2 linked regions of the Homo sapiens genome follow. The protein of the gene in region 1 interacts with the protein of each later gene in a biochemical or structural test. Each region holds a gene or a part of one and is shown on either strand. Other genes may lie near its edges.

Region 1 (3,649 bases):
GTAAACCCAGCACTTTGAAAAGCGGAGGCAGGCGGATCACGAGGTCAGGAGATTGAGACCATCCTGGCTAACATGGTGAAACCCTCGTCTCTACTAAAAATACAAAAATTAGCTGGGAGTACAGGGCGCACGCCTGTAATCCCAGCTACTCGGGAGGCTGAGGCAGGAGAATCGCTCGAACCCGGGAGGCGGAGGTTGCAGTGAGCCGAGATCGCGCCACCGCACTCCAGCCTGGGGGACAGATGAAGACTCCGTCTCAAAGAAAATAAAATAAAAAAATGAAAAAAAAACTTCACGGATTGAATTACGTAGAAAGCCAGTTTACAAATGTGGACAAAAACGCGATAAGCAAGCTTCTGTTTAGGGGGAATGATGGCGTGTGCCTCTTCAGGGACCGCTTGGAGCAGTTAGAAAGGAAGCGGGAGCGGGAGCGCAAGATGCGGGAGCAGCAGAAGGAGCAGCGGGAGCAGAAGGAGCGCGAGCGGCGGGCAGAGGAGCGGCGCAAGGAGCGGGAGGCCCGCAGGGAAGGTAGGCGGCGCGGTGGGCAGCTGTGCTCGGCGGGACGCGTGTCTGCTGCCCCCTGGTGCTGGGCACTTGCTGTCACAGGCGGGCGCTTGGTTCCGGTGCTTGCTTTTCGCCCCTGCCTTTTTTTTTTTTTTGGAGGCAGAGTTTTGCTCTTGTCCCCCAGGCTGGAGTGCGGTGGCGCGATCTCGGCTCACTGCACCCTCTGCCTCCCGGGTTCAAGTGATCCTCCTGCCTCAGCCTCCGGAGTAGCAGGGATTACAGGCACCCGCCACCATGTTCAGCTATTTTTTTATATTTTTAGTAGAGACAGGGTTTCACCGTGTTAGCCAGAATAGTCTCTTGATCTCTTGGCCTCGTGATCCACCCACCTCGGCCTCCCAAAGTGCTGCGATTACAGGCGTGAGCCACCGCGGCCGGCCAGTACGAGCTTTTATAGTCACCCACGTCCTCACCTTAATGGAGATCTTTATTTCTTCACCCAGCTTCCGGTTTCTGTCTCGCGTCCTTTCCTTACACCCCACACAACTCCCTGGAGCTTATTCTTCAAGGCAGGTCTAGGTCTAGTAGTAATGAACTCCCTCTGCTTTTGTTTATCTGAGAATATCCTCATTTCTCCCTCATCTTTGAAGGAAAGTTTGCTGGATACGTGGTTCTTGGTTGACAATTTTGTTGTTGTTGTTTTGAGACAGAGTCTTCTTCTGTTGCCCAGGCTGGAGTGCAGTGGAGCGATCATAGCTCACTGCAACCTCGAACTCCTGGGCACAAGTGATCTTCCCACCTCAGCCTCCCGCGTAGCTGGGACCTACAGGCGTAGCGTGTGCCACCACACCTGGCTCATTTTTCAGTAGAAACAAGGTGTCCCTGTATTGCCCAGGCTGGTCTTGAATTCCTGGGCTCAAGGAACCCTCATGCCTAGCTGACAGTTTTTCCTTTTCACTTGGACTATTTCAGCCCATTGTCTTCTGGCCTCCAAAGTTTCTGATGAGAAATCTGATGATCTTATAGAGGATCCCTTGGATGCTTTAATCTGATGACCTGATTGAGGATCCCTTGGATGCTTTGAAGATTCTCTTTGCCTTAGGCTTTCAACTGTTTAATAATGGGTTTTCCTGTGGGCCTCTTGACTTCATTCTACCTGGAGTTCACTGAGCCTCTCTAATGTTTATATTTACGGTTTTCATCCAATGTGGGGGTTTTGAGGAATTCTTCAGATACCCTCTCTGCTCCTCTCCTCCCTCCTGGGCTCCCACAGATCTGTTGGGGTCCCCGAGGCCGCTCAGCACTGCTCCCTTTTCTTCAGTCTCTTCTGCTTTCTTTTCCTCAGACGATGTGATTTTATTGTCTTCAGGCTCACCGATTATTTCTTCTGCCTGCTCACATCTGCCTGTGAGTTTCTGTTGTGAATATTTACTTTTTAGTGTCTATTGTGAGCATGTACTTATTAGCTCTGGAATTTCTCTCTGGTTTCTTGTTGGATCTTCTGTCTCTGTTGATATTTCCGTCGTGTTCACGCGTCATTTTCTTGACTTTCTCCACATCTTCCTTTCGTTCTCTGAGGAACTGAAGGTTAAGACAGTTCCCTAAAGTCTTTGGGACATCTACCGTCAGGTGATTTTCAGGAACCGTGTCTGTTGGCTTCTTTTTTTCCCCTCTGAATGGGACATACTGTCCTATTTCTTTGTTTCTCTTGTGTTTTTCTTAGTCAAAAAAATGGACATTTGATTCTCATGATGTGATTCTTCCTGGTCCCCACTCAAGGGTGTGCACTTGTTGTTTTGGTTGTGCTGGGCTGTGTCTGTGGGGTCGGCCTGTTGTGGAAACTCAGGGTCTTCACGGGTCTTTTCTGAGCCTGAGCCTTTTCCTGGTCACGTGCAGCCACTTTTTAACGTTCCCGTCAATACAGATGTTTTTAATGTTCTTGTCCTGAAGTGTCTGCCTCCTAAAGGGGGAATAGAGAGAAATGAAGGGGGCAACGGGGGACGTGGTGCTCATGCCCTGGAAGTACCTTCAGCTTGGGGGTGGCCGTGGCTGCTGCCTCTTCATGCCTCTGGGGTGGGACACGCAGTCATCACACTGACCTCGGGTGTGTGTGTCCGTCTGCCCACCTGGGTCCGGCGAGCTGCATGCAGGCTGCTGCCTGCCAGCGGGGAGTGAGGTGGGAGCCACTAATGTGCGAAGCGGTGACGTTGATTAATGAATCACAGTTTACTCTCCAAGATTCCCCCTGAAGTTGCAAACCTTCAGTAGACTCCAGAGCACCTCAGTAGTTGCACAGGCCTGATCCTGTGATGCAAGTGTTGTCTCGGTGGGGAGACTGATTCCCAGTGCTTCCTACTCCATCTTTCCAGAATCTTCTCCCGCCCCTTCCTTTTTGACCAGTGAAGATCAGTCTAGAAGGTCCACCTGGGTCCTCGGGCTCACGGCCTCCAGGTTGGAGCTTTTTCTCCCTGGGCTTCCTGGGAGACCTCTGGCCTCTGACCCCGATGCTGTCAGCACCCTGTGCACGCTGTGGGTGTGTCTGCCAGGTGCGGGTGTGGGAGACGAGGCAGCTGTGCCGGGTGGGGCCTTTTGAGGAAGGCAGTGCTGCTAGTGCCATCTCCCTCTCTGCCCTGCGCGCCAGTGTCTGCACATCACCGAACGATGAGAGAGGACTACAGCGACAAAGTGAAAGCCAGCCACTGGAGTCGCAGCCCGCCTCGGCCGCCGCGGGAGCGGTTCGAGTTGGGAGACGGCCGGAAGCCAGGTGAGGCCAGGCCGGCGCCTGCGCAGAAGCCAGCACAGTGTGAGTCTTTTCTGGGGGATGTTTGGCATAAGTGTGTAGGATTCATTTAAAGCCCAGCTAAGTAACCGCTTCAGAAGAAAGTGAGAGATGTGCTGGCTGAAGTCCTCTCGTGTCGTGAGAGGGACCGTGAGTGTCTGTGTGCGGCCAGGACACAGGACGTGTGTTTATCCGCTGGGACATTCGCCACTGGCCCCGTTAGAGAAGTGGCTTCCAGCGTCTCTGGATGAGCTGGTTTCCGACCAAGCAAAGTTAATCGTTACGTGAAAGGCACTAGTTTTGGGGTGGTGGTAGCTTGTTTGTTTAAAAACATTTCCCCAAATTCACCTTTATGGTTTATCTCAT
Region 2 (3,649 bases), on another chromosome or scaffold:
TGCTCTATCTGGAATGGTACATCTGTGAATGCTGTTCAGAATATGTGATCAGTTCCTTACCCCATTGAAACATTCGAGCCTAGATTTTTCAGATTTTCTTGTCAGTTTTCTTCCTTATTCTCATTTCTTTATCTGCTTTGGCCTTTGATTTTTATCTCATCTAGAAAAACATACATGCACTTTATTAATAACATCTCTTTTTAAGTCACGACCTAGCTACCTTTAAACCTATTTCCTCTAGTTCTGTCTGGTTGGCTTTCTAAGGAGAGGCATTGTAACCCTTAAACGTGTGCTGTTTTTTTTTTTAATTGATGTGTAATAGATATACATGTGCTCTTTTCTTGTGTTTCTACCACTAGAGTTTAAGCTCTCTGAGGGGAGGACTACACTGCTTTCTTTTAAATTCCTCTCAATGAATAATCCAAAGAGTTCTTAGAAATTTGGTAGTTTTTCATTTTGTTAGTTATTTCAACACACATTGGATTATATGTGTTACATTTTTGTGAGGTAGCTTAAGAATAAAAAATAAGAATGGCTTATGAGCCTTTACTCTAACCAGCACTATATGGGCATTTTATGTTCATTATCTTATTTGATAGCTATTAATGTCTCTTTTTAACACTGAGAAAACAGATTCAGGTAAGTTATAATGTGGAAATGTAGAAAAATCACCTACTTTCTCTTTAGAAGCTCAGATGTGTATGTAAGGCTTGCTAAAAGCAGACCCCACCGTATATTTTATATGTATAGAGCTTGGGTAATTCCTGACATATAATAATGGAGTCTTCATCTGAAATTTCTAACAAATTATTAAATTCAAAGCTTATTATTTTCGAATCGAGCATGTTCTTTGCCTTGAAAACAAAACATAGCTGAAAGCCAGTGCTTCTAAAGGCCACAGCTGTCATTTTCAACCCTTTCTGTCTTTGCACTGCCTTTATTTAAAAAAAAATGGATTAGCAGTAGGTAGTCTTCTTTTTCTTTTCTTTCTTTCTTTTTTGATTCTTCTCCTAGGATATCTGCTCTAGCCACTGGGAAATAACTTCTCAGTATTTTGACCCTGACTAGAAAGATGTCCCTTGGGGAAGGAATTGGGATAGAGGGGCTAGGCTGTTTCCTAGATCCTCTATTTTCAGCATTTATTATCTGATTTAGGATTTTGTTTCTTTGAAGAAAATCCTATTTTGTGAGTACCTTTAGAATTATTTTTCATAGCTGTTTATCTGCACTAGTGGTTTCTCTTTAAACAGAAAAACACTTTTTTTCTTAAAAAAAGAAATAGTACCCAATTTTTAAAAAAGTAATACATACTTGAAGAAAATTTAAAAAGATAGGAAAATGAGGATATAATAATGTTATTACCCAGAGACAGAACCAGTGTTAACCATTTGGTGTAACCTTTCTGTTCGGGTTTGTTTGTTCTTTAGGGGATATTTTACAGAAATAAAATATTGTGCAGCCTCGTCCCTCCAGCCCCCATTGCTCTTAAATAAATCTTTTCATGACATTAAATCTCTTCTTTTGATGGCCACGTAATCTTGTACCATCTATCTCCTTCCCTCCCCTGCCTTTTTTTTTTTTTTTTTTTTTGAGACGGAGTTTCGCTCTTGTCGCCCAGGCTGGAGTGTAGTGGCGCAGTTTCGGCTCACTGCAACCTCCACCTCCTGGGTTCAAGTGATTATCCTGCCTCAGCCTCCCGAGTAGCTGGGATTACAGTCATACACCACCCCGGCTAATTTTTTTGTATTTTTAGTAGAAACGGGGTTTCACCACATTGGCCACGCTGGTCTCGAACTCCTGACTTCAGGTGATCTGCCTGCCTTGGCCTCCCAAAGTGCTGGGATTACACACGTAAGCCAGTGCACCTGGCCAGTCTCCTTATTTTTTAAACCATTCCCATATTGTTGGATATTTAGATTTGCTTCCATTTTTTCACTAAGCAATCTCTGCGTTTATCAACAAATGCTTCCCAGTCCTGACTTGCTGCATCCAGTGGCTTAGAACAGATTGACAGCCATCATCATCATATAGGTGTGCTGGAGAGCTCCTGTTCTCAAGCACGTCAGTCTCTTCCTGAAATATGCCCAGCACAAGGAAAATCTCTTGGCTTACTGCAGGGTTGGGCCTTTTGTGGCCTCTAATGAGTTTGCCTGCGCCAGTATCTTGATGCTTCTGCAGTGGTGCCAGGCCTGACGATGAGACTATAGTCTTTCAAAAACTTTTTAGGAGACAAATAAAGAGTATCTTGCTGACTTTTTTTTTAGTGGGAACCTCATTCAAAGTCTTGGAACAACAGTAGGTCTTGATTAAAAACCATCATGGCATATCACTAGAAAATTCAATTAGAAACTAATGGATAAACTTCAGTTACATTTAACATATATGTCCATTTTAACATAACATACTAACTATCTGTACAAGATTAATCTAGACTTTTGCTTTTCCTTCTCACAAAATTGTATATTTAAAAAGAAAATTCAAGCTTATGGTTTTATGGGCTGCTACAGTGTAATAGTCGTGGAGAAGAATAATAGTACTTCAGTTTGATTTTGCACTATGCATTTTTCAAGGAAGATTTCCACATTTAGTATTCTTTAATTCCCTGCGCCTCATCTTCACAGCAACTCTACTGAGGTAGATGCCATCTTCATTTTATGGATTGGAAGGCTGAGATTTAACATGCTCACATGGCTGTATAGTGGCACATTGCGCTGTGACACACAGTCCTGCTGCCTTCCGACTATACTACATATAGGTACTCTGTGTTCCTTGTGCTCTCCCAATAATGATTTGTAGAAAAACTTGATATTCATTTGCATATGAGTTTTGTGCTTAGCACAGTTATAAGCATTAAATGTGAAACAAACATGAAGCTTTCCTTTGAGGGCACACACGTGAAGCTGTAAGTGGTACAGTACTCATCTGTATCACAGAATGGCATAAAGAAGTCCTAGACCATGTAATAGGCTATAAGTATATTCAGAGTCATAGGCAAGGTAAATCAGTGAGGGCTAGGGCAGTCAGGGAAGGGTTTGTAGCCCTAGAAGAATGGGTGGAGTTCAGATAGGCAGGCAGTAAATAGGAGAGCACTCTAGATGAAGGGAACTACAAAAGCAGTTTCAGACACGTTTGAGCATTGTGTTTATAGGGCATGTGGTGCTGGCCAGCCTGAGAGAAAGGTACATGTTGGAGAACAGTGGATGAGAAAGCCAAACAAGTAAAGAGGAGACAATTTATCAGGAATTTGAAAGCCAGGTAGAGCTTAAATTTGATGGAGTAGCCAAAAGGGAGTCATTGGAAGTTACTGAGTAAGGACAAAGGCAAGACTAGAGGTAATTTAGGAAGAGTAATTTTTTGTTTGTTTTGAGACAGGGTGTCTGTCACCCAGGCTGGAGTGCAGTGATGCAGTCATGGCTCAGTGCATCCCTGGCCTCCTAGCCTCAAGCGATTCTCCCATCTCAGCCTCCCAAGTAGCTGGGACCACAGGCATGAGCCACCACACCTGGCTAATATTTTATTTTTTGTAGAGACAAGGTCTTACTATGTTGCCCAGGCTGGTCTTGAACTCCTGGTCTCAAGCGATGCTCCAGCTTTGGCCTCCAAAAGCACTGGGATTATAGATTGATCTGCCATGCCTGACTGGAAGAGT

Evidence for each region. Proteins that work in one complex are often made in the same cells at the same time.
Region 2: the proteins of CDK11B (region 1) and YWHAB form a complex in vitro, tested with the Homo sapiens proteins (one study listed by BioGRID).

Annotation. Positions count from the first base shown.
Region 1 is NC_000001.11:1,642,005-1,645,653, reverse strand, and holds part of CDK11B (cyclin-dependent kinase 11B), read left to right. Parts: intron 1-364; coding exon of another isoform or gene 365-391; coding exon 392-528; intron 529-3,145; coding exon 3,146-3,268; coding exon of another isoform or gene 3,269-3,307; intron 3,308-3,649. UniProt on the Homo sapiens protein: Plays multiple roles in cell cycle progression, cytokinesis and apoptosis. Involved in pre-mRNA splicing in a kinase activity-dependent manner. Isoform 7 may act as a negative regulator of normal cell cycle progression.
Region 2 is NC_000020.11:44,892,126-44,895,774, forward strand, and holds part of YWHAB (14-3-3 protein beta/alpha), read left to right. Parts: intron 1-3,649. UniProt on the Homo sapiens protein: Adapter protein implicated in the regulation of a large spectrum of both general and specialized signaling pathways. Binds to a large number of partners, usually by recognition of a phosphoserine or phosphothreonine motif.